Linked DNA regions of Homo sapiens. The protein of the gene in region 1 purifies or fractionates together with the protein of each later gene. This does not show direct contact. Each region holds a gene or a part of one and is shown in the gene's direction. Other genes may lie near its edges. The genes, in order: UHMK1, VBP1, CNOT1, CNOT2, TNKS1BP1, BTG3 and CNOT9.

Evidence for each region.
Region 2: the proteins of UHMK1 (region 1) and VBP1 purify together in Homo sapiens (affinity purification with mass spectrometry; one large-scale study listed by BioGRID and IntAct). This does not show direct contact.
Region 3: the proteins of UHMK1 (region 1) and CNOT1 purify together in Homo sapiens (affinity purification with mass spectrometry; one large-scale study listed by BioGRID and IntAct). This does not show direct contact.
Region 4: the proteins of UHMK1 (region 1) and CNOT2 purify together in Homo sapiens (affinity purification with mass spectrometry; one large-scale study listed by BioGRID and IntAct). This does not show direct contact.
Region 5: the proteins of UHMK1 (region 1) and TNKS1BP1 purify together in Homo sapiens (affinity purification with mass spectrometry; one large-scale study listed by BioGRID and IntAct). This does not show direct contact.
Region 6: the proteins of UHMK1 (region 1) and BTG3 purify together in Homo sapiens (affinity purification with mass spectrometry; one large-scale study listed by BioGRID and IntAct). This does not show direct contact.
Region 7: the proteins of UHMK1 (region 1) and CNOT9 purify together in Homo sapiens (affinity purification with mass spectrometry; one large-scale study listed by BioGRID and IntAct). This does not show direct contact.

The regions. Positions count from the first base shown.
Region 1 is NC_000001.11:162,518,318-162,521,817, forward strand, and holds part of UHMK1 (serine/threonine-protein kinase Kist), read left to right. Parts: intron 1-3,500. UniProt on the Homo sapiens protein: Upon serum stimulation, phosphorylates CDKN1B/p27Kip1, thus controlling CDKN1B subcellular location and cell cycle progression in G1 phase. May be involved in trafficking and/or processing of RNA.
Region 2 is NC_000023.11:155,229,960-155,233,459, forward strand, and holds part of VBP1 (prefoldin subunit 3), read left to right. Parts: intron 1-3,500. UniProt on the Homo sapiens protein: Binds specifically to cytosolic chaperonin (c-CPN) and transfers target proteins to it. Binds to nascent polypeptide chain and promotes folding in an environment in which there are many competing pathways for nonnative proteins.
Region 3 is NC_000016.10:58,521,827-58,525,326, reverse strand, and holds part of CNOT1 (CCR4-NOT transcription complex subunit 1), read left to right. Parts: coding exon 1-148; intron 149-1,484; exon of another isoform or gene 1,485-1,824; coding exon 1,825-1,957; exon of another isoform or gene 1,958-3,500.
Region 4 is NC_000012.12:70,337,433-70,340,932, forward strand, and holds part of CNOT2 (CCR4-NOT transcription complex subunit 2), read left to right. Parts: coding exon 1-81; intron 82-323; coding exon of another isoform or gene 324-353; exon of another isoform or gene 354-987; intron 988-1,010; coding exon 1,011-1,131; intron 1,132-1,233; coding exon 1,234-1,390; intron 1,391-3,500. UniProt on the Homo sapiens protein: Component of the CCR4-NOT complex which is one of the major cellular mRNA deadenylases and is linked to various cellular processes including bulk mRNA degradation, miRNA-mediated repression, translational repression during translational initiation and general transcription regulation.
Region 5 is NC_000011.10:57,314,953-57,318,452, reverse strand, and holds part of TNKS1BP1 (182 kDa tankyrase-1-binding protein), read left to right. Parts: intron 1-565; coding exon 566-635; intron 636-3,500.
Region 6 is NC_000021.9:17,595,902-17,599,401, reverse strand, and holds part of BTG3 (protein BTG3), read left to right. Parts: intron 1-577; coding exon 578-785; intron 786-3,500. UniProt on the Homo sapiens protein: Overexpression impairs serum-induced cell cycle progression from the G0/G1 to S phase.
Region 7 is NC_000002.12:218,571,839-218,575,338, forward strand, and holds part of CNOT9 (CCR4-NOT transcription complex subunit 9), read left to right. Parts: intron 1-3,500. UniProt on the Homo sapiens protein: Component of the CCR4-NOT complex which is one of the major cellular mRNA deadenylases and is linked to various cellular processes including bulk mRNA degradation, miRNA-mediated repression, translational repression during translational initiation and general transcription regulation.

The DNA.
Region 1 (3,500 bases):
TTTTTATATTCTGACTTGTACTTTTTACTTCTTCTAAAAGTTCTATAATATGCTTGCATTTTTTTAGCACTTAAAATTTTTTTTTTTTTTAAATATTGGCTGGGTGTGGTGGTTACGCCTGTAATCCCAGCACTTTGGGAGGCTGAGGTGGGTGGATTACTTGAGGTTAGGAGTTCAGAGATGGTGAAGCCCTGTCTCTACTGAAAATACAAAAGTTAGCCAGGCGTGGTGGCACATGCCTGTAATCCCAGCTCCTTGGGAGGCTGAGGCAGGAGAAACACTTGAACTCAGGAGGCAGAGGTTGCAGTGAGCCAAGATCCTGCCACTGCACTCCAGCCTGGGCCAGGAGAAATGAGTGAGACTTCATCTCAAAAAAAAAAACTACTTTTGGCTGGGCGCAGTGGCTCACGCCTATAATCCCAGCACTTTGGGAGGCCGAGGCAGGCGGATCACGAGATCAGGAGTTTGAGACCAGCCTGGCCAACATGGTGAACCCTTTTCTCTACTAAAAATACAAAAAATTAGCTGGGCATGGTGGCGCATGCCTCTAATCCCAGCTACTTGGAGGGGCTGAGGCAGGAGAATCGCTTGAACCTGGGAGGTGGAGGTTGTAGTGAGTGGAGGTCATGCCACTGCACTCCAGCCTGGGCAACAGTGTGAGACTCCATCTCAAAAAAAAAAAAAACTACTTTTGAGCCACTGTAAACAGTAACACCAGGCCAGGTGAGGTGGCTCATGCATGTAATCCTAGCACTTTGGGAGGCCGAGGCGTGTGGATCACCTGAGGTCAGGAGTTTGAGACCAGCCCGGCCAACGTGGTGAAACCCCCTCTCTACTAAAAATACCAAAAATTAGCCAGATGTGGTGGCAGGTGCCTATAGTCCCAGCTCTTCAGGGGGCTGAGCAGGAAATTTGCTTGAACTTGGGAGGCTGAGCTGCAGCAAGCTGAGATTGCTTTATGGCACTCCAGCCTGGGTGACAGAGCGAGACTCCATCTTAAAAAAAAAAAAAACAGTAACACCAACTGCTAAATCATGCTTTATTTCAGGTTCAGCTGGAGAAATGTTTTAGTCTAATTTTGTTCTAATTAGGTAGAGTTAGAAAGCCAATTAGGTTAGGTTCTAATTGTAATAGAAACTATCAGTGATAGTTTAAAGAAGGAAAGTGTGCTGGACTGAGAATTCTTGAACCTGAGTTCTAGCCTCAATATGATTAGCTTTGTGATGATCCTCATTTTCTTCATCTTTAAAATGTGTGGGCTAAAACTGTTATCACCGCATTTTCTTTAGAAACTCTAATTCCAAATTAAATTATATGACAAAGAATGTAAGAAGATATTTATTTGTAGTATTTTTATTTTTTGAGAGATAGAATTTTGGTTTGCTTTACCTTAGGGTTTCTCATTCTTGACACTATTGACATTGAGCCTGATAATTCTTTTGTTGGAGTAGCTGTCCTCTACACTATAGAACGTTTAACAGCTTTCCTGATTTCTACCCACTTTGAACAAAAAAAATGTCTCTAGACACTGCCAGATGTCTGTCCTCTAGGGGGTGAAGTCATCTCTGGTGGTGGATTATTTTATTGTATCTTTTTTTTGAGACAGGGTCTCACTCTGTTTCCCAGGCTAGAGTGCAGTGGTGCAGTCTCAGCTCTCTGCAACCTCTACCTTCCAGGCTCAAGTGATCCTTCTGCCTCAGCCTCCCGAGTAGCTGGAACTACAAGCACATGTGCCACCACACCTGGCTAATTTTTTGTAGAAACGAGGTTTTGCTATGTTGTCCAGGGCGGTCTTGAACACCTGAATTCAAGAGATCCAACCCGATTCAGTCTCCCTAAGTGCTGGGATTAAAGGCGTGAGCCACTGTGCCCAGCTATAATTTTATCTTAATAGCTTAGTATTATGAACATTCCTGACAACTGAAAAAATATGAAAACAAAAATATGAGCACAGTTTTATTCTAGTCCTAATGAAAAGTTATTGCCAAACTAGTGATAATAGTTTTACATTTAGTATCACGTACTGAATACTAATATGTATAATTGTATCCTTGCTGTTTAGTCATTTAACTGATATTTATTGAGCATTTATTATGTTCTAGGTACCCATTGTAAAAGTGGTCAAATCAGATTTTTAAAAGTGTGGTGATAAGTGCTAGGGAGAAAAACAGATTAAGGAAGAAACTTAAGGAGTGCTGGGGTAGGTAGGGTGGGTTGCACTTTTAAATGGGTTAGTAGGGAAGGACATCTGAGAAGGTCATATGAATCAAGATTTGAGGGAAGCGAGGAAGAGAATGTTAGGCAAAAGGAACAGCAAGATCCAAGGCCCTGAGTATTCCTGGCAGATTTGAGGAGGCCAATGTGGCTGTAGCAGAGTGAGAAAGAAGAATAGTAGGAGATTAGATCAGAGAGATTAGGGAGTGGTAGGGGGCTTATTAAGTAGAGTGAGCTGGGTAGAGTATTGAGATTACATTGGCTTTTATTCTGAACTAGGGCGAGGTATTGGAAGATTTCGAATGAAGGACTGACATGATCTGACTCAATATTAGCCCCAGTGGTCAAAATGAAGTGGAAGATACAGAATAGAGAGACAGGAGAAGTCTTTTCCAGAGAGAAGTATCCAGGTTTAAGATGATATGAAAAAAGTATCAGTGAGAGGAAAGTTGCTATTTTGAGAAGTTTTCACTGACATTTAAAGGAGAGTGAAAGCAGCTTTTGATAAACTCTTGGAATCACAGATTTAATCTATCTAGGCTTTTGAAAATGTCCATTACCTAGTTGTCGAAGCCATTCTTCATTTGAATTTTTAATTCAAGCAAACATGATTTTATAAGGAATGTTACAAAAAACACTGAAAAATAATGAATGCATCTGATAATGCAATTATAAAAATAATCAGAATTAAAATGATACAGCCCTATTAATTTCATAATTTATAAAAATAAGATGCCTTTCTTAGTGTGGGATGGTGTAGTATAGAAAAGTATAGCCTATCTGAAGCAAGGAGTATGATAGAAAACATGATATTCCTTCTATAAATGCATGTCTACTCATTTATCGAACTTTGCTCTATAGGTTTGGGCATAATTAAGAATCAGGTAAAAAAAAAATCAGGAATAGATTCATTATTCCTTTTTGGGGTGGGGTCAGGGAGGGGACAGGGTCTTGCTCTGTCACCCAGGCTGGAGCACATACAGTGTCGTGATCTTGGCTCATTGCAGCCTCGACTTCCTGAGCTCAAGTGATCCTCCCAACTCTGCCTCCCAAGTAGCTGGGATTACAGGCATGTGCTATCACGCCCAGTTAGATTTTGTTTGTTTGTTTTTGAGATGGAGTCTTGCTCTGTTGTTGCCCGGGCTGGAGTACAGTGGCGCAATCTCAGCTCCCTGCAACCTTCGCCTCCCGGGTTCAAGTGATTCTCCTGCCTCAGCCTCCTGGGTAGCTGGGATTACAGGTGTGTGCCACCTTGCCCAGCTAATTTTTGTATTTTTAGTAGAGAC
Region 2 (3,500 bases), on another chromosome or scaffold:
TGGTCCAGGCCACCTTTGTCTCTTGCCAGGACTGTGGGAATACTGTCTATTAGTTTTTAGGGATGCCATAATAAAATTACCACAAACTGGGTGGCTTTAACAACTGAAATGGACTGTCTCATGGTTCTGGAGGCCAGAAGTCCGTGATGAGCCCCAGAATCAGGGTCGATTCCTTCTGAGAGCTGTGAGGGAAAATCTGTTCTAGCCTCCTCTCTTAGCTTTGGTGTTCGCGGACAGTCTTTGGCATGTTGATGTGTAGAAGCATCACTGTGATCTCCGCCTTCATCTTCACATGTGTGCATGCATGTGTCCAAATTTCTCCTTTTGAAAGACCTTATCTCCAAATAAAGTCACATTCTGAGCTACTGGGGGTTAGTAGTCCAACTTATTTTTTGTTGGGGAGACAGAATTCAATCCATAATACCTTACTTCCACGTAAGGTCACATTCGCTAGTATAAGGGGTTAAAACTTAAATGTATCTTTTTTGGGGACACTGTTTAACCCATAATAATACCCTAATTCACTGTCTTGCTTCTGCCCTTGCTGGAATTCCTAAAGTCTTTCCAGCACAGTGGTCAGATTAATCCTTTGAAATCTCAATCAGGTCATTCCATTATTCTGCCCAAAATCTTTGAATGGTTTCTTATCACATTCCGAGGAAAAGTCCAAGTTCTTTGAGTGGCTGACAAGTTCCTATACATCCTGGTACTCTCTGTTACTTCTCTCTTTTTTTTTTTTTCTGAGACAGAGTCTCACTCTGTTGCCCAGGCTGGAGTACAGTGTTGTGATCTCAGCTCACTGCAACCTCTGTCTCCCGGGCTCAAGCGATTCTTGTGCCTCAGCTTCCTGAATAGCTGGGATCACAGGCACGTGCTACCATGCCCAGCTAAATTTTTTGGTAGAGACGGGGTTTTGCCATTTTGGCCAGGTTGATCTCGAACTCCTGGCCTCGGGTGATCTGCCCACCTTGGCCTCCCAAAGTGCTGGGATTACAGGTATGAGCCACCGTGTCCAGTCTCTCTGTTCTTCTCTTACTTCCTCGCTTGGCCACACTTGGACTTCTTGCCAGACTTAGAGCATGCTGGGAATGGCCCTGCCTCAGAACCTTTATTCTAGCTCTTTCTTCTGCTTAAGCTGCCAGAGTAGTGCTTTTAAAACATGTCAGATGATTCCGCTTTTCTGCTCAAGACCCCAGTGGTTTCCCTGTCACCAAGGGTGGAATACAGAGGTGTCCTTTCCACAGGACAGCCCTACTCCCTCTCAGCACTCATTTATGCTCATTCTTTTGCTCACTCTGCTGTAGCCATGGTGGCCCCCTAACTGTTCCTGGAACCTGCCAGTGTGGCCCCACATTTCTACTTCTGTGTTCTTCACACTCAATCCTTTGAGTTCTCAGTTCTGATTGTTAGCTCCCCCAGGGACCTGCTATGACTTGTCTGTCAGCATTTCTTGGTTTCACTTGTACTGTTTATCTTGTATTGTTTTCCTTCAAAGTACTTAGCACTCCCTGATATGTTATTGATTGGTGTATTTACCAGTTCCCTGACACATAATAAGTGCTCAGTAAAAATTTTTCTTGGGTGAATGACATTTTTGTTAGTTTTTCATCAGAGTTCATACATGCTAATGGTTCAAAGAGCAAATAGAAAGCAGCAGGCTACTGCTCCATCCCCAGATGCACCCACTTTTAATCATGTCTGTACATCTGTATGTACCTAAATATTTGGAATTTTGTTAATTGTTTTTACAAAAATGGGATATATATTGTATATTGTTCAGCACAGATGTCTTTATTTGTGAGTAGACACAGAGTTTGCCTCCTTGGTTTTATTGGCTTACTATTCTGTGGTAGGGCTATGTGATAATATTCCCAAGTCAAGGGGTGTTTGGATTGTTTTAAAATTTCTTGTACAGTGAGCGGTGCTGTAGTAAATATTTTTGCACATATAGACTTGTATACAAAGGCATATTTTTGTATGCTGCTTTGAAATGGAATTGTTGTGTCTAAGAGTATGCACATTTAACATGTTGATGGATACTATCAAATTGCTCTCCAGAAAAGACTACCAATTTTCATTTTCTCCAACCGTATATAAAAATACCCTTTTATTAACAGTCTCACCCACATTTTTAGATTTTTGCTAGTTTTATAGGTGAAAATAGTATCATCTTATAGGTTTTTGTATGACAAAATGCTCATTTGTATTTCCTCTTCTGTTTCCCTTCCTGACTATGTTGTTGCTCCATTTTTCTGTTGGATTCTTTTTCTTTTTTTTTTTGATAGACATTTAGGTCTTCTTTATATATTATGTATTTCGGATGCACAGTCTTCTCTTAATATTGCAGATACTTTTTCTCATCTGTCACTTGTCTTTTGTGGTAGCTCTTAGAAGTTTTAAATTTTAATGTAATCGACTTTATCAGATATTTATAATTTTATCTTAACAGTGTACTCCTTTCACCAAATCTGCAAACATTTTTTTCCTAATATTTATATACTTAAATTTTTTAGAAAACTTTTTTGTTAAGGATAACATGGAAAGATAAGCAACTCCTCAGGATAATGGGTGAGTGACTTCCAAAAAGAGGGCCTCCCAATGGCCAGTAAACATATGAAAAGTTGTCCCACTTCATTAGTAAACAGGGAAATGCAAATTAAAAGCACAATGTGATCTCACTGTGTACCCACCGGAATGGTAGGGTGATACTAAGTGATGGTAGGACATGGAATAGTGAGAACACTGATTTACTGTTGGTGAAGGTGTAAATGGACACAGCCACTGGGGAAACTGGCAGTATCTGTTAAAGCAGAACATATGCATTGCCTATGCCATAGCAGTTCCATGCCTGTCTCTATCTCTTTCTGCCTCTTGCTGTATATAAGAAATGTATAAATATTAACTAAAAGAAAGGTATAAGAATGTTCATATCAACTCTGTAGTAACCAAAACCTGGAAACAACCCAAATGTTCATCATAGTCGAATGGATGAGTAAATCATGATGTGTTCAGACTGTGGAATACTATACAGTACAGAGGAGGAATGAACTGCTGCTACACGCCAGCACTGCAAGGGTGATTTTCACAAACAAGGTTGAGTGAAAGAAACTGCATAGCAAATTACCACAAACTCAGAGGCTTAAAACAATATCCATTATCTCCTAGCTGTATAGGTCAGAAATCCAGATGGGCTTGGCTGGGTCCTCTGTGCAGGGTCCCACAAAGCCAGAATTAAATTGTCAACAGGGCTGTATTCCTTACTAGCATCTCTGGGGGAGAATTAGATTTCAGCCTTATTCACGTTATTGGCAAAATCCGGTTCTCTGTGGTTGAGGTCCCTGTTTCCTTGCTGCCTGTCGTCCAGGAGTCAGTCTCAGCTTCTAGAGGCCACCTGCAATCCTTGGCTCATGGTCCTTTCTGTTTTCAAAGCAGTGATATGACTAGTCTTTCTTACACTTTAGATCTTTCAAACTTCTCATTCTGCTGCCAGCCAGAAAAAG
Region 3 (3,500 bases), on another chromosome or scaffold:
CAGCTCATCAATGCACTGGTGCTCTATGTCGGGACTCAGGCCATTGCGCACATCCACAACAAGGGCAGCACACCTTCAATGAGCACCATCACTCACTCAGCACACATGGATATCTTCCAGAATTTGGCTGTGGACTTGGACACTGAGGGTGAGTGAAGCCTGCCAGTTTTCAGAGTAGAGTTCTCTGTGCTTTTTGCTACAATCTGATCACAAAAATGTAAAAATGCTTCAAGCCACAATAGTGAAGGAATGTTCTGTCAGTATATTTATTCACAGGTCTAGCTGATTATTTTATCTTTAATTGGACATTATCTGCTCAGTGCAGGAAATACAAAAAAGCATAAAGGAAAGAATTATCCAGAATCGTGCAGTATCAGTTTTGGTGTATGTGACTGAAGTTTTTTAGTGTGAAAATAAACTTAAAGTCCCTTTAAACATAGCCTCTTGTTACATTGTTTTGTTAGGCTGCCTTATATAAGCATTTTTATTGGTGCGTGTTTGGCAGGCATCTTGTTAAATGTTCATGTATAAAGATTAATGAATAGGACTCTCCTGTTCTGCAAAAAGCTCACAGTATAACTCCTGTTGCAGGTTGCAGCTTTTCTGCTTGAGCTACATTTCATTTGGTCCTCTATATTTATCTTATAAAATAGAGACCCCAGTTAGGTGCTAACTAGTTGTACAGTCCTGTCCAGTTTTGCATACATATATTTTAGGGGGACACTACTCTTTAACTTTGCTATTGATTCTTGAGAGATGAATTGATGTTGCATATATGCTGCATGCCTATATGTGGGATGGATTTAAGACAGCTTAAATTCAAGATATAACAAAATTGAATACCATCACGTCCAAGAGCTCGGCAATAAAAGGACGGCAGCCTTTAGAGAAACGTGTCACTGTGACAGACTCACAAACACGAATAATGTCAAGCAGAGGCAAACAACCAAACCCAATTAAGATAATACTTATTCCAGTGTAGTTTAGACTAATCAAAATGTGGGCTGGGTACCCTTAGGGTGTCAAGACCTTTTTAGGAGGGCTGTGAGGTCAAAACTTTTTTTTTTTTTTTTTTTTGCGATAGAGTCTTGCTCTCACACCCAGGCTAGAAGGCAGTGGCGCAATATCGGCTCACCATAACTTCCGCCTCAGGGGTTCAAGCGATTCTCCTGCCTCAGCCTCCCGAGGAGCTGGGATTACAGGCACACGCCACCATGCCCAGCTAATTTTTATGTATTTTTAGTAGAGATGGGGTTTCACCATGTTGGCCACGCTGGTCTTGAACCCCTGACCTCAAGTGATCCACTTGCCTCAGCCTCCCAAAGTGCTGGGATTACAGGCGTGAGCCACCGTGCCCGGCCCAAAACTGTTTTCATCATAAAACAACATTTACATTTTTGGGTCTATTCTGTCATGAGTGTACAGTTGAATTTCTCAGAGGTTACATGAAATATACTGTAACAAGTTGAACACAGAAGCAGAAATGAGAATCCAGCTGTCTTTTATTAAGCAAGACTTAGAGATCTGCAAAATGTAGAAAGACTTAGTGATGAGTGTCACCAGAAAATAGTTCATGTTTCTTACATTAGCACATAGTGGGTCTGTTTTTAAAAATGAATATTTTTAAAATCTAATTTCTAATGTGGAAAATTCTGAAATAAAACGCACAGAAATGAGAACTCTTTGGGGTCCCAAGAACCACTGCTTTAAACCAAAGATTAATTTGAAAGCCTCTGTCAGAAACCCAAACCCTAGCCAGTTAGAACTGTCTTCCCATGTTGGCCTTTCAGACTAAGTCCTAAGTCAAGGTTTCTTAATTTCTAGGTCGCTATCTCTTTTTGAATGCAATTGCAAATCAGCTCCGGTACCCAAATAGCCACACTCACTACTTCAGTTGCACCATGCTGTACCTTTTTGCAGAGGCCAATACGGAAGCCATCCAAGAACAGATCACAAGGTAAGCGAGCAGCTTATTTTTTAAATGCTTCAAAAGGATCTCCTCCCTTTCATCTTTTTTTTTTCCTCTTTATGCTTTCAGTGTTCAGTGAAAATCCGTTTGGTTGGTTTTTTTTTTGTTTTTTTGAGACGGAGTGTTGCTCTGTCACTCAGTCTGCAGTACAGTGGCGCCATCTTGGCTCACTGCAACCTCCGCCTCCCAGGTTCAAGCGATTCTCGTGCCTTAGCCTCTCAAGTAGCTGGGATTACAGGCGCCTGCCACCACGCCCAGCTAATTTTTGTATTTTAGTAGAGACGGGGTTTCACCATGTTGGCCAGGCTGATCTTGAACTCCTGACCTCAAGTGATCCACCCGCCTCAGCCTCCCAAAGTGCTGGGATTACAGGCGTGAGCCACTGCACCCGGCCTTCAGTGAAAATCTTTTACATGTCCAATAATGTGTTAAATGTGGGATACAATTGTGAGCAAAATGGATGGTTCCTGCCCTCTTAATACTCATTCTGATGGACATTTATCACAAGATAGGGAATTATAAATCGCAATCATGGCTTAAATGAAAAGTAGTTTACCACAAGGCACATTTTGATTAAAGGTCAGGAGTTTCTCTGAGGTGGTGGTGATAACCAGTCCTAAATCATGCAGGCCTATGAAGTCTATGTTAAGGAACTTGGACTTTTCCTCATTACCTCTGGGTTGAAAGCAGTAGCAATAACAGGATCATACTTGCATTTTCCTAACAATAGTTAGGAATCTGTTGCCAGATTGCCTAGACTACATATAGCATTAGAGAGATTGTGATACACACACACACACACTTTAAAAATTGGGCCAGACTCTTAAAACTTGCTCATTTGCCTAATTAGTCACCTATGGTGCTAAATATGGTATTCCTTTGATTTGTGTACTAAAATTTAATATCTTATTGGATGCTTAGATGATGATGATCCATTTTGTTTATATAAAGCTGCAGTAAGTCTCCTTGGACTTGTAATCTTTGTTATGCTTCATGTACAGTTGGTACGTGAAAGGATATAAAGTTAAGCCAATGCTTACTGGCATTCGGAAAAATTTTACCAATTTACATGTGAACTAGCAATGTTAGCTTTTTTTTTTTTTTTTTTTTTTTTTTTTTTGAGACAGTCTCGCTTTGTCGCCTCCTGAGTAGCTGGGATTACAGGCACCTGCCACCACGTCCGGCTAATTTTTTGTATTTTTAGTAGAGACGGGGTTTCACCATCTTGGCCAGGCTGGTCTTGAACTCCCGACCTCGTGATCCACCCGTCTTGGCCTCCCAGAGTGCTGGGATTACAGGCGTGAGTCACTGTGCCCAGCCTGCAGTGTTAGAATACTTAATTCTTATTTTCTGTTTCCTTTTTATTGAGAGTGAGCTTATTTATTTATTTAATTTATCTGTTTATTTGAGACAGGGTCTCACTCTGTCTCCCAGGCTGGAGTGCAGTGGCACCATCTCGGCTCACCACAACCTCCACCTACTGGGTTCAAGCGATTCTCCTGCCTCAGCGTCCGACTGCTGGGATTACAGG
Region 4 (3,500 bases), on another chromosome or scaffold:
TCAATACACAATGAAGATTTTCCAGCATTACCAGGCTCCAGCTATAAAGATCCAACATCAAGTAATGATGACAGTAAATCTGTAAGTAACTGAGAAGTGTGTATGTGAGTGATGTAGTTTTTCCCTTCAGATTTCTCTTATATTAACAATTACTTACTAAATACTATTACAAAACTGTTTTATCTTGATATCTGTAATAACCTAACTTCTGAAGAATGTGGAAAAGCTTTATAACTTAGAAGATAGCCTATTTTTTTCCTATTTCATATAGGTTTGCAAATTTCTGTTGAACTTCTCAGAGTTAATTTAGACTTTTATTGTAGTCCCTGTCAGCTGGATCCCATGAAGTTTGATAATATAGCCTTCTAAGGAGCTGTGTTTTTCTTGAGTAAGTTTTCTCCTTGAAGAATTTATACACATTTTTATACCTGTGTTGATTCAACCAACTCAGCTTCTTCTTTCTGACTTAACAAATATGTTTATTTCTTCCACATTTCACTGAAAATAGCTTTTCTCTGTGTGTGATGGGAGTTTATATATTATTAAAATAATTGATAAAGAAGATCGGTAAGAATTAAAATAAGTACAAAGTTTTAAAGCTTGTATGTCTAACTTATCTTCAAGGTAGCTTTGGTGATTTTAGGTAATATACTATATTTAGTTTCTCTTTTACATGAAAGCATTGAGGAGTGTAACTTCAAGTGTATCCCAAAGCATAAAGACCTGAGAAAGAGATAGATTTTTTTTTTTCTGTGACTGAAGATCTGAGATAAATAAGATATTTTCCCTTGATTTCTTTTTCTTTAAATACTCAAATGTGGATGATATAGGATTTATTTGTATACCATGGAACAATGATGGAAACAATTTTCTATAGAACTTGAAAAACAGGTAATAATTTAACTACCAATTTAAATGTAATAAAGAATAAATAGCAAGGTATTAATATGTGAACTTGAATTTGTATACTTAACAAATTTTAATGTCACATTTAATTTTTTTCATGCTAGAATTTGAATACATCTGGCAAGACAACTTCAAGTACAGATGGACCCAAATTCCCTGGAGATAAAAGTTCAACAACACAAAATAATAACCAGCAGAAAAAAGGGATCCAGGTGTTACCTGATGGTGGGACTCTAGAAATCTATGTCAAAGATATTATAGAATGCTTTTTTTTCTATTTTTTAACTTTTTCTTGAAAATAAAAGCAACTGTGTTTTTCCTACCCAGGTCGGGTTACTAACATTCCTCAAGGGATGGTGACGGACCAATTTGGAATGATTGGCCTGTTAACATTTATCAGGGCAGCAGAGACAGACCCAGGAATGGTACATCTTGCATTAGGAAGTGACTTAACAACATTAGGCCTCAATCTGAACTCTCCTGAGTAAGTTTTTTCTGTTTTTCCATGTCTGTATATAATACCTCTTCAGACTTCCAGTTTTTAATATCATGTCATCAAATTATCTCACCTACTGCTACTCATTGTTAACCTGCTGATTCTCTGGGTCATTCCCATTCATGTTAGCTCTTAGATCACTGTCACTCTGCAGTATTCCTTTTATAATTTGGCATTTTATGTGTGTGTGTGTGTGTGTGTGTGTGTGTGTGTGTGCATGTGCATGTATATATGTGTGTGTGTATATATATATATATACACACACACACACACACACACCTTCCAGAATCCTGAAATCTCAGCTCCTTGAATTTCTTTCCTCCAGGAATTTTTGTCCTGTAGTATACTTCAGCCACTCCTTTAGTTATCCCTTTGACCTAGTCATTGTTCGTAACTGCAGTCTCTCAATTTTAAAATCTGAGCTCGCATGCTTTCCGACTTCCACTTTCTATTTTCTATTTCTCTTCTTCTAGTACTGTGATTCCTGTAATCATTTCACTCCATTGGGACCTTCAATCTATTGATTCTTCGGTATTTTAACTGTTCTTCCAGATCCCCGTCTCTTTTCCCCTGTGATCAACTCCCTTCTTACCCATGAAATTCTGTGGTCAGTCATAATTGTTCATTTACATATCCCATGACTACTTGCCATTTTCTCATGTTGTTATACTTGCATGGCCAAAGCTACAGTACTGATTGTTTCTGCCTATTTCATTCCTGACCTGTGCTACTGAGCTCTGCTAGAGAAAAACACATGATATCACTGCCTGGTCTTCCTTTATTTTCATGCCCAGGAGCCTCAAAAGTAGGCTCTTAATTCTACCAGTGATAATTATACCTTGCATGCTTAGTCCATTTACTCTTTTGCTCTCTTATGCAACTATCGTACACTTCTGCATGCCCCTAATACCTTTTCTCCTTATTCTTACTATCAAATGATGATCTTGCTTTTCACTTTTACTGTACTAAGAAAGATGGAAGCAATTAGAAGAGCACATTTAGCACAGTCTAGCCAACAAATCTGACTACCTACAGCCACCTACACCTATGTTATTCTTGTTTTCCACCCTATTACCATAATTGACCCATGCGTTCTACTTACAACACATTTTCACACTTTGTTGGGTCATTTTCATCAACATAGAAATACATTGTTACTTCTCTCATCTTAGAAGAAAATCTTCCTTTGATCCAACCTCCTCCGTAAGTTACTTTCCCATTTCTTTATTTCCCTTTGAAGCGAAACTTTTCAAAGAGTCATCTCCATTTCTCCGACTTGGTCTTCTCCCATTCTCTGGTAAGCCCATTTCAGTCAGGATTTTGTCCCTGCCACTTCACTAAAGCTGCTTTTATCAAGGTCACCAAATGACCTTCATGTTATTAAATTCAGTGGTCACTTGGAGGAACTCTTGCTCCTTGATACACATTCTTGTACTTGAATTTGAGAGCACCATTTTTACCTCATCTTCACTGGTTGGTCTTTTTCAGTTTCCTTTGCTGGTACCTCCTCCTTTTCTTCTTGACCTCAGTGTCATTCCTCTTCTCTGCATTTACATCCTTGATGATCTTTTTCTAGTCTTATTGTTTTAAATACCATATATATTGAGGAATCCCAAACATATGTTTCCATTCCACACTTCTGAGTTTGAGATTTCTACATTCAATTGCCAATTAAATATTTCTTGAATGATCACCCCCCAACTTATTCTGTCTACAGCCTTTCCAATCTCAGTTAGTGGTAACTCTGTACTTCCAGAAACTTGGCATTATTCTTAACTCCTCTTTCTTTTATACCCCATAATCAGGCTTTTCCCAAAATATATACAGAATCTAACCAAAGCTCACTACTTTTAACTGCTACCACCCTTGTTTGAATCATTCTCTCTTGCCTGAATACTCCATTAGCCAGTCACTGGGGGTCCCTGATTGTCCTTATACCCCTTCCCGTACAATCTCTTCATATAACAGCCAAGACAATCCTTTTTTAATACATTACTCCTCTGCTCAACACCCAGTAAATGTTTGTGGTTTCATTATGATTAAAAACCCCAAATCTTTTTTTTTTTTTTTTTTTTTTTGAGACAGAGTATTGCTCTTG
Region 5 (3,500 bases), on another chromosome or scaffold:
GCCCCAGAGCTAGTCCTTTGCCTGTCCCAGACCAGGGTGCTGTGAGGTCACACTCTTGCCCAGGCTGGGTTCCACCCGCCATCTTCCTTCTCTCCCTCACTCCAAGTAGGGCTTAAGAACAACTTCAACCCTGGAAAATCACTCTTTCCTCTTCCCCTCCCCCACTGCAATTCTTCAAGAAGTATTGGCAGGGCAGCAGGACCAGCTGCACTCTTCCTGGCTAGAGGAGAACTTTAACTCCTTATGGGTTAAAGGAAAGAGGAGTTATCTTTTTAGGAGCTGTTGAGAGGTCTGGGCATCCAGGATGCTTTTCCTAAAGTAGCTGGGGAATTTAACCCTTCATGCTCAGGTAGGGAATAAGCACTGTTTTCTGGGGCACTTGCCGAATGGAAAATGGACAGATTCTGTGTCCCTAATAGTTGCAGGCAGGGCTCAAGAGTAAATGGCTAGGAGGGTTTAACCTTTGGGTGCTGTTAAAGTTGCACTGGGAGACTCTCCCACATTTTCCATTCTGTGACAGACTCTAACATTCCGTGCTTCCATTTCCTGTCCTCGTCCCTCACAGGAGCCTTCCTTCCGACCTGGCCTTCAACGGGGACCTGGCTAAGGCAGCCAGCTCGGAGCTACCTGCTGATGTGAGTTATCCTCCAGTTATGAATCAGAATCACGTATTTTAGAGCTGGAAGGGTCATATGAGATCATCTTTTCTACTCCTTGTAGTTCAGATGGGGAAACTGAGGCCCATGGGGAGAGTGACTCACTGGAGGGCTGGCCCTGGGATTTTTCGACTCCTGGGCCAGTGCTCTTGATCACCAAAGTGGCTAGGTGTGGTTAAGGCCATGAGGCCATTCATCATAAACAGTAATGATAGTATCCACAACAACTGCCATTGATTAAGTCCCTACTATGTGCTGGGCCTGTCCTGGGAACGTTAACCAACTCAATCCTTGTGATAACTCTGGCTAGTAGACCTGGTTAGTCCCATGTGAGAGATGAGAGCACCTGTACTCACAAAGGGTAAGTAACTTAGGCTGAGGCAGCAGCTACTGTGTCTGCCTCCCATGCTTTCCCTGGCTGGGCTGCCTTTTCTGAGTTCAGAAGAGGGGTGAGTCCTTTTGCTGAGATTTTCCCATCATACTCCCGTTCTTGAAGATGGTCAGCCTGCTTTCTTGAGTAAACAAGGTACAGGATGGCCCTTTTTGCTCATACAGCCCTTGCTAGCTGGAGATCTGACTTGATTCATTTGTCCATCCAGCAAGCAGTGACTGAGCGCCTGTTAGGAGCTGGATGTTGGAGATAGCTGTGAAGGTAGAGTAGAGAGTGCAGGGACGAGTGTGGTCAGGGAAGGTGTCACTGTGAAGGGCAGAGGCTGAGCTGTGTGCATGTCTGGAGAGCAGCATTCTTGGTAGAGGGCACAGCAAGTACAAAGGCATTGGTGCTTTCCTGGCAAGGAGGCCAGGATGTCTGCCTGGCAGTGAGAGAGGAGTTAGGTGGTAGTGAGGACCAACGGGTTGGGGGGTTGGATTGTGTCAAGTCTCGAAGGCCTCTAGAAAGACTTTGGCTTCAGTGAGAGCAACAGGCCATTTGAAGGGTTTGCAGGAGAGGCATGGGATGCTGCTGTCTTAGTTGTGAAGAGTCACCTGGCCCACTGGATTAAGAATCAGTTGCAGGGAGGTAAGATCAGCAGCATGGACCAGTCAGGGGGCTGTTGGAATAGTCCAAGTGAGAGATGATGACGGCTTGGACCCTGGAGGTAGCCTACGGTGGAGATGGGGAGAAGTGGTTGGTTCTGGATAGAATTTGAAGGCATGGTGGAAAGGACTTTCAGATAGATAGAGAGCACAGAATCAAGGGTGACCCCACGGCTTTTGGCCTGAGCAACCGGAAGGATGAGTTTATGGTTGCCGAGACGGGGACTTCTAAGGGTGAAGCAGGATCGGGGGAGATGGGAGGAGTTTGCTTTGTGGATTTGTTGAATTTGAGATGGTTTTCAGACATCCATGTGGAAACGTCAAGCGGATGGTTGGGTAGTCGAGTCTGGCCTTCAAGGGAAGTGAGCAAATTTGAAAGGAACACTTGGGAATTGTCAGAGTAGGAATGCTTGTGAAGACTGGCTGAGATTACTGAGAGTGGGGATGGTGCAGGAGGGGAGGGCCCAGAGGCACAGCCAAGGAGACTGGGAGGACAGTGAGAGAGTCCACCAAGTGGAGACAGCCTCCAGGACTGGGGGAGGGCGCCATCAGCTGTCAGATGCCACTGACAGGTCAAGTAAGATGAGCACAGAGAATTGGATTCAGCTCCAGGGAGGTCATCCGTGACCTTGACGAGAGTAGTTAGGTGGCAAGGTAAAGGAGAAAGCCTGTTTGGAGTGGTTTCAAGAGAGAAGGGGACAAGAAGAACTGTGGATATTAATAGTGAATATAGACAGGGCTTTCAAGAAAATGGATGGTAGCTAGTGAGTGATGTGGGGTCAAGAGTGGTTTTTTGGTTTGCTTTTTTGGCTTTTCAAGACAGAAGAAATTAGAGCAGTTTGTGTGCTGATGGAAATGATCCAGTAGAGAGGGAAAAAAAAATCGATGCAGGAGAGAGAGGAGGGATTGACCTCAGCCCCAAGCGAGGACAGTGCCTGATAGCAGAAGGGGAGGCAGAGTGCTTGGGCTCCCATGCAGGAAGTAGGTGGTGTGTGTGTGTGTGGCGGTGGGGGGGTTGTCGGGGGTTCTCTGCTGGTGGCCTCTGTGTTCTCAGGGAACAGGAAGCAAGGCCATCAGCTGAGAGAGGATTGGGGGAGGTGTGGAGGTCTGACGGGAGAAGATGCTAAAACATTGCCTGGGAGAGTCATGGAGTGAATGGCAGGGGGAGTGCCGTGGGATTCTGGGCAGCTCTAGGGCCGGCTTGAGGTCAGCAGTGAATCTGGAGTGAGACCAGCTGTCACGATTGTGTGTTTTTATCCAGCCACATGCAGCTACTCAGGTGCTGGGCTAGGATTGGCCCAGCTGTATTGGAGAGCTGTATTTAAACAGGTTAAACAGTATGATGAAGCAGATGAGGGAGTTGAGTGTTGAGTAAAAAGTGACGTTAATGGTGATAAGAAGAGAGGTGAGGGTATGAGGGGAGTGGGGGACAATGAGAAAGAATTAGGGTTAAGGGGCTGTGCTATGAGAGGGGCTGAAAATAAGGGCGTTGGGGAAATAGAGTGAGCCGGTCAGATAGGCGGTGGGGGTGGGCAAGTGGGATACTTGGGATTGAGATGATGCAGAGGTTGCAGCCACTGGTAAGGATGAGGTCTAGGGTGTGACCTTGAGAGGATGGGTCGCACAGTCACTGAGGAAGAGGAGGTCAACGAACCAGAGGCTGGAAGGGTCGCATCTGGCTATGGAGATGACTGTAAGCTATCACAACAATGATGGAGAGGGTTGCAGTGATGCAGCGGTTATGGTTTTCAAGGAATGATGGGTGCGTAAGGGTCAATAACAAGAAAGAATTGTGGGTGCTGTAGTTTA
Region 6 (3,500 bases), on another chromosome or scaffold:
TTGGGACCAGCCTCAGCAACATGGTGAAACCCTGTCTCTAAAAATGTATATAAATTAGCTGAGCATGGTGGTACACTCCTGTAGTCCCAGCCTCTTGGGAGGTTTGAAGTTGGAGGATCGATCACCTGAGCCCAGGAGGTAGAGTCTGCAGTGAGTTGTGATTGTGCCACTGCACTCCAGCCTGGGCAACAGAGTGAAACCCATCTCAAAAAAATAAAAATACATCAGAATGTTTTATTGTACAACCAATTTCATTGGTACATACAAAAATGTAATCAAAACAATGGACTTTTTTTGATGTTTTAAACAATTTTTTTTTTAGGAATTAGTAGAAAGAAAATAAGGGAAAGAAAATGGGGTTATGTTTATGAATACTTAAATAGACCAGAAGTAGAAAACTGTGGTTTGCTTGCTGGCATTGAGCTGTATTAGGATATTAAATGTGTAGGGTCAAGTTCTGTGATGATTCAATCTTTGCCTTGTATTGATGGCATGTCCAGATCTCTTTGTTTTTATGGACATTTTTTGCTTTGCTGATGTGACTTCAAGATTTGTAAGTTTTTAATTTTATTCTTAGGTATGGAGAGAAAAACAATGCATTCATTGTTGCCAGCTTTGAAAATAAAGATGAGAACAAGGATGAGATCTCCAGGAAAGTTACCAGGGCCCTTGATAAGGTTACCTCTGATTATCATTCAGGATCCTCTTCTTCAGATGAAGAAACAAGTAAGGAAATGGAAGTGAAACCCAGTTCGGTGACTGCAGCCGCAAGTCCTGTGTACCAGGTAACCATGAAAACAGCTCAGTTTTAAAGGGATGTGCAGGGATTGCCAGGACCTTTCAGGTAGTCCTACTTGGCATTGCCCAAGGTTTCTGACTTGAGATTCTGGATAATAGTTCTTGCCTTTCCCCATGCTAAGGGAAAGCTGTTTCTCTGGCACGTAAATAGGCATCCTGAGTCATTTTATCAAAGGTCAGCTTCACTATACAATAACTAGGATAAATATATTTCAGAAAAATTGGCAAAAAGTAGAAAATTCATGATGGTAAAACATTCCTGATATTTTAAAATCTCATTCAAAAGTTACCACTTATTTTTTGTAGTATGTAACACTTTGTTTTGTACCTTTGGGTTTAACTTTCTATTCTCTCCCGTTCCATGATTAAAGAGAAACCTCTCTAAATTTATTATATTATAATTAATATTTTACTCAAGCTGAAACATTGTCTCCCTTTTTGCTTTACTAGTTGAAAAGTCATATAGCTAGTGTGCCTGCACTTACAGATCCATTCACTGATTTACTATTTATATCTACATACCAAAGAACATTTAATCGACTTTAAAAAATTGTTGACCAAACAGCATTCTTCAACAGGAAAGATATTTTAAAGTCATAACAATTTAAAGAGATTTTTTGAGTTGAGCCTTATTCTGTAAATGTACTTATTACTAATTTTTAAAGGTTATCTATTTTTACTTACTTGCTTTGATTAAATGTGAAACATACCAGGTTTGTGGTAAGGTTGAGCTGAAAATGAAAATTTAGACCTAATGAGTAAGAAGCAGAATATTGGAGCTTTTAGTATGATAAACTAAACTTTTAAATTCAGCATACATTTACATAATGAACATTATTTCAGTGTAACTTAATTTTTGGTTTTCTCATTTTTTTCTCAGTTGAATTATTCTTCCTAGACTTTAGGGGAAGATTATTTCTGAAGATTATCATAATTTAGGATTCTATGTATATGTGTATGTATATGTATATGTATATAACATGTACCTGGCTTTATGAAACTTCAAACAGTACAAGACAGTATAATAGTGAGAAGTCCTCTTTCTCCCCAACCACCAGTCCCTATGCATTTCCACAGAGACATTCATTACCAGGTTTTTTTTTCTTTTTTTTAGTATCCTTCCAGAGACATTCCCTATATAAATAAGTAAACATAGTATTTGTACTTCAGGATCATTTTTAAAAACCTTGCCATAAATATTTGAGGCATTTTTTTTCTCTGTGTGATGGATTATATATTGCAAATTAGGTATATTGAATTTTCTGGAATTCATCCAAATGTGTGGCAATTTTACCTCAGAATTTTATTTGTTGTTAAGCAAGAATGTAAGTCTCAAATTAAATTGATTGCTGCTAATTTTTTACAAGCAAATTAACCTTTAATTTTTAGGATTTCTTTTAAAATTAAATTGCATTTATTTTCCCTCATGTTGAAAGACTATTAGGATAACAGAAAGGTATGGAAATTGAGGTGTCTCTTACGTGCTTTTTAAGGAAAACATTTCTCCTTGGCCTAATACTCATTAGCAAAACATTTTATAATAGAGAAACACTACTTGTGTGAAAGCTAGTGCAAATGGCCCACTTTGATTTTCTTCTTTCTAGTATCTTGAATCTGGCATTGCCACAAGCTTTAAAAAAGTTTTATCAAATAAGGACAACAAAATTTCTAGCTTGGAATTTTTGTTCTCTACTGTTTTCTAAAAGGTATCCCAAGAGAGGGGATAAAGAATTATTCATATCTTAAAAAACGAAGAAATGAAGATTGTGTCAGTTCTCCTGAAATAGATCTGTAGATCCAATTCAGTATCAATGAACATCTTAAAAGGTTTTTTTCTGGAAAGTGACAAATTGATTCAAAATTTTAAAAAAGGAGGATCAGTTGGAGGGCTCACACTAATTCAAAGCTATTATATATTCATCAAGACAGTGTGGTAATGGTTTAAAAACATACAAATATATTGATGGCACAGGATAGAGAGTCCAGAAGTAGACCCACATACATACAGTTAGTCTTTTTTCTCCCTTTTAACAAAAGTGCCAAAGCAATTCAATGGGGAAAGTCTTCAAGAACTTGTGCTGAAACAACTGGATGATCTGTGTAGGAAAAAAAACGAACCTAACTTAGCTGACACCATACACAAAAATATTGATTTGAGATGGATTGTGTACCTAGACATAAAAGATAAATCTCTGACGCTTTTAGAAGAAAACATAGGGAAATATAATCTTTATTTTGTGACAGGCAAATATTTCCTCTAGAGGGTCACAAAAAGTAACTAATAAGGGAAAAAAATTGACAAACTGGACTTCATCAAAATTAATCATCTTTTTGTTCATCAAAGAAACCATTAAGAAAATGGGCAAACCATAGACTAGGACAAAATATTCTCATTACATATATCTGTAAAGGACTTATTTCCAGAATATACTTTTTTTAAAATCGCTCACAAATCACTAGTAAAAGGTAAATGATTCAATGAAAAATAATGGGCATATCCTGCTGTAATCTCAAAAAAAGGGCAGGAGGAGCAAAAGATGTGAATAAACACTTTACAAAAGGAGTTATGTGAATGGCCTCATTTATGATCAGAGGAATGCAGATTAAATCCATATGAAACACTAGTTCTTCCAGAACTGCACAATTTAAAAGCCTGACAGCATGAAATGTTAGCAAGGATGTGAAGCAGCTAGATTCATAAA
Region 7 (3,500 bases), on another chromosome or scaffold:
CCCCCAAAGTGCTGGGATTACAGGCATGAGCCACTGCGCCCGACCTTGCTGTTGTCATTCTTGATGGAATACATCCTAACATCTTCATATATTCATTACCGCTACCATTGAGCATAATTTCTTTTTTCTCTCCTCTAATAAATAAGGACAGAAGTACCACACAGGATTATTCTAAAGATTAAGTAAGAATAACAAAATGCGGCCGGGTACTGTGGCTCATGCCTGTAATCCCAGCACTTTGGGAGGCCAAGGCGGATAGATCACCTGAGGTCAAGAGTTCCAGACCAGCCTGGCCAACGTGGTGAAACCTCATCTCTACTAAAAATACAAAAATTAGCTGGGCATGGTGGCAGGCGCCTGTAATCCCAGCTACTCAGGAGGCTGAGGCGGGAGAATCACTTGAACCCAGGATGTGGAGGTTGCAGTGAGCCAAAATCGTGCCATTGCACTTCAGCCTGGGAGACAAGAGCAAGACTCCATCTTTAAAAAAAAATGAAAGAAAGAATAACAAAATGCTCAGTGGTTGGCTAGATTCACTCACTGATATGTGACTTGTTCCCAGACTTCAGCTTTGGGAATTTAATTCCCAAATTAAAGGCTCACACACCTATAATCCCAGCACTTTGGGAGGCCAAGGCAGGAGGATCACTTGAGGCCGGGAGTTCAAGACCAGCCTTGGCAACACAGTAGGAACCTATCTCTACAAAAAATGTTTAAAAATTTTCCAGGCTGCAGTGAGCCATGATCATGCTACCGCACTTCAGCTTAGGCGACATAGTGAGACCCTGTCTCAAAGGAAAAAGAAAACTACAAATCTTTGCATGCCATAGGTATTCTGTAATGGATGTTATGCTTGTGAAACAACCGGAGGTAAGCCTTTAGGGGATGTGTTTTTGTTTTGTTTTGTTTTTAATTTCCCACTGATTTCCACTGACAATTCTAGCATCCCTAAACACTTGTCTTTCTCTCACTTTCCGCCTAACCAGCAGCATCATTAGTTATTTTACATCTTTTTATTGAAGCTGTCATGGACTGCCAGATGCCTTCCTTTTTGGCAAGTAGAAAGAACACTGCACTCTAAAGGATTTAATTCACTTTCTCCTCCCGAGTCTCCTGATGAAGCTTTAGGCAAATTGCCTAACTTATCTTTCCTTATTCACTTTCATTTTTTAAAAGTTATTTTGAAAAAATACATTCTGGGCCGGGCATGGTGGCTCATGCCTGTAATCCCAGCACTTTGGGAGGCTGAGGCAGGTGGATCATAAGGTCAGGAGTTCGAGACCAGCCTGGCCAACGTAGTGAAACCCCGTCTTTGCTAAAAATAGAAAAATTAGCCTGGCGTCATGGCATGCGCTTGTAATCCCAGCTACTTGGGAGGCTGAGGCAGGACAATCGCTTGAACCTGGGAGGCGCAGGTTATAGTGAGCTGAGATTGTGCCATTGCACTCGAGCCTGGGCAACAAGAGCGAAACTCCATCTTAAAAAAAAAAAAAAAAAAAAGATACATTCTGGCTCTTATAAAATTATGAAGGTAAGCTAATTTAGTACTTCCAGCACTATTAGAAAGTTCATTTTCTTGGAATACCATGCTGACACCCAAATCCACGTGTTGATCTCCAGACTTGGGAAAATAATCTCTATTTCAGTCTGATTCCATTCTTTATGTATTGGCAGGAAAATAAACAGCTATTTTGGCCCTTAAACATAAAGTTACATTGATAATTTGGCTATTTTCTGTTTAAGAAACCATCAGCATCAATTTTTTAGTTTACTCAGAGAAGGAAATCATTTTCTTTACCATTTATAGATAAATGTCATGTTTTATTTAAAATAATTTATAAACATCTTTATACTTTTCACATTATGTGTTAAAATCTTTCAGAAATAGAAGACCAACTTAAACTGTCAGTACCCTGTGTGACACTTGGAGTTAACCATTGGTAACTTACTTTGGTAAATACCTTATCTGTATGTTAAGCTTTCTTGGGGAAAAAAGGTGTCATTTGAAATACATTTTCCATATACAAATCATTAAACAGAAAAGGAGGGAGAGTTACCACCTAAATTTTGATAATATGAAAGTTTTTTAACACACTTATTAAAAGAACAGGACTGTTGACTTTATTTTTTTATTTTATTTTATGTTTTTGAGACAGGATCTCGCTTTGTTACCCAGGCTGGAGTGCAGTGGTGTGATCTTGGCTCACCGCAACCTCGACCTTCTGGGTTCAGTCGATTCTCCCACCTCAGCCTCTTGAGTAGCTGGGATTACAGGCAAACGACACCACACCAGGCTAATTTTTGTATTTTTAGTAGGGGCAGGGTTTCACTGTGTTGAAACTCCTGACCTCAAGTGATCCACCAGCCTCAGCCTCCCAAAGTGCTGGGATTACAGGTGTGAACCTGTCTCTGTGCCTGGCCAGGACTGTTGACTTTAGCAGGTTACAATTAATAATCTACGGTAATGTACTATAGAGCTTTTTTCTATTCTTGGAAGTGTTAAGGATAACTCATAATCTAAATCAGATTTCTCATGATGATTCTATGTGTCCAGGTATGTAATTGAGCTCACTGTGTATCCAAATCCAGCTGTTAATGAGTTCTGTGCTAAGGGAATATTAAATTTAAGAAAGTTTTTTTGGGTTCTTAAGAGTAATTTCTTCAACTTGGAGGAGTATTTGTGCTTTCTATCCTTGAGACCAGATAGAACTCATCGATTCTAGAGAGAAGTAGAGTTTCAGTCTCATTCTGCTGTACACTGGCTGTGTGACCTTGAGCACATTAAACCTCTATTAACCTGTTTCCTCTTAGAATTTTGAGAATAAAATGATGTAATCCACAGTGCCTGAAACATGGTATGCTCAATAAATATTACTGCATATTAATAATTTCTGGAAAAGGCAGACCTAATCTATAGTAGCAGAAAACACCCATGATTGCCTCAGGCTGAGTATGGGGTTTACTGAAAAGGGCATTAAAGAACTTTTTGGGGTGAATGGATCTATATCTTCATTATGGTAGCAGTTACTTAGGTGTATAAATTTCTCAAAAATCTATTGAAGCGTACACTTAAAATGAGTTCACTTTTATTGTATGCAAATTATACGTCAAAGTTTTTTTTTTAAAAAAAGAGCCTCTTAGATTAGACTCTCACAACTAAGAACTAAATAATTTCTAAGATTTTAGAGTTGCCTGAGACTGACAATTATTTAATATAGTTCCTTCACTTTAACAATGAGAAAATTGAGGTTTGGAAAGTTAAATGACTTATCCTAGGTCACACAATTCTAGAAAGAGCAAAACTGGATTTTGAAGTCACTTCAGGCTCCCACGCCAGTGTGTGTTCCAATTATATACACATGTAGTTCCTTGCAAATTGAGGTCTTTCCTGTTCTTCAATTTGATAAACAGATTCTTAATCCTGGGTACATGGATACATTGCAGGAACTCTGTGAACTCCTTAAAATTATGTGTAGGTTTTCGTGTTTTTGCAGTTGTGT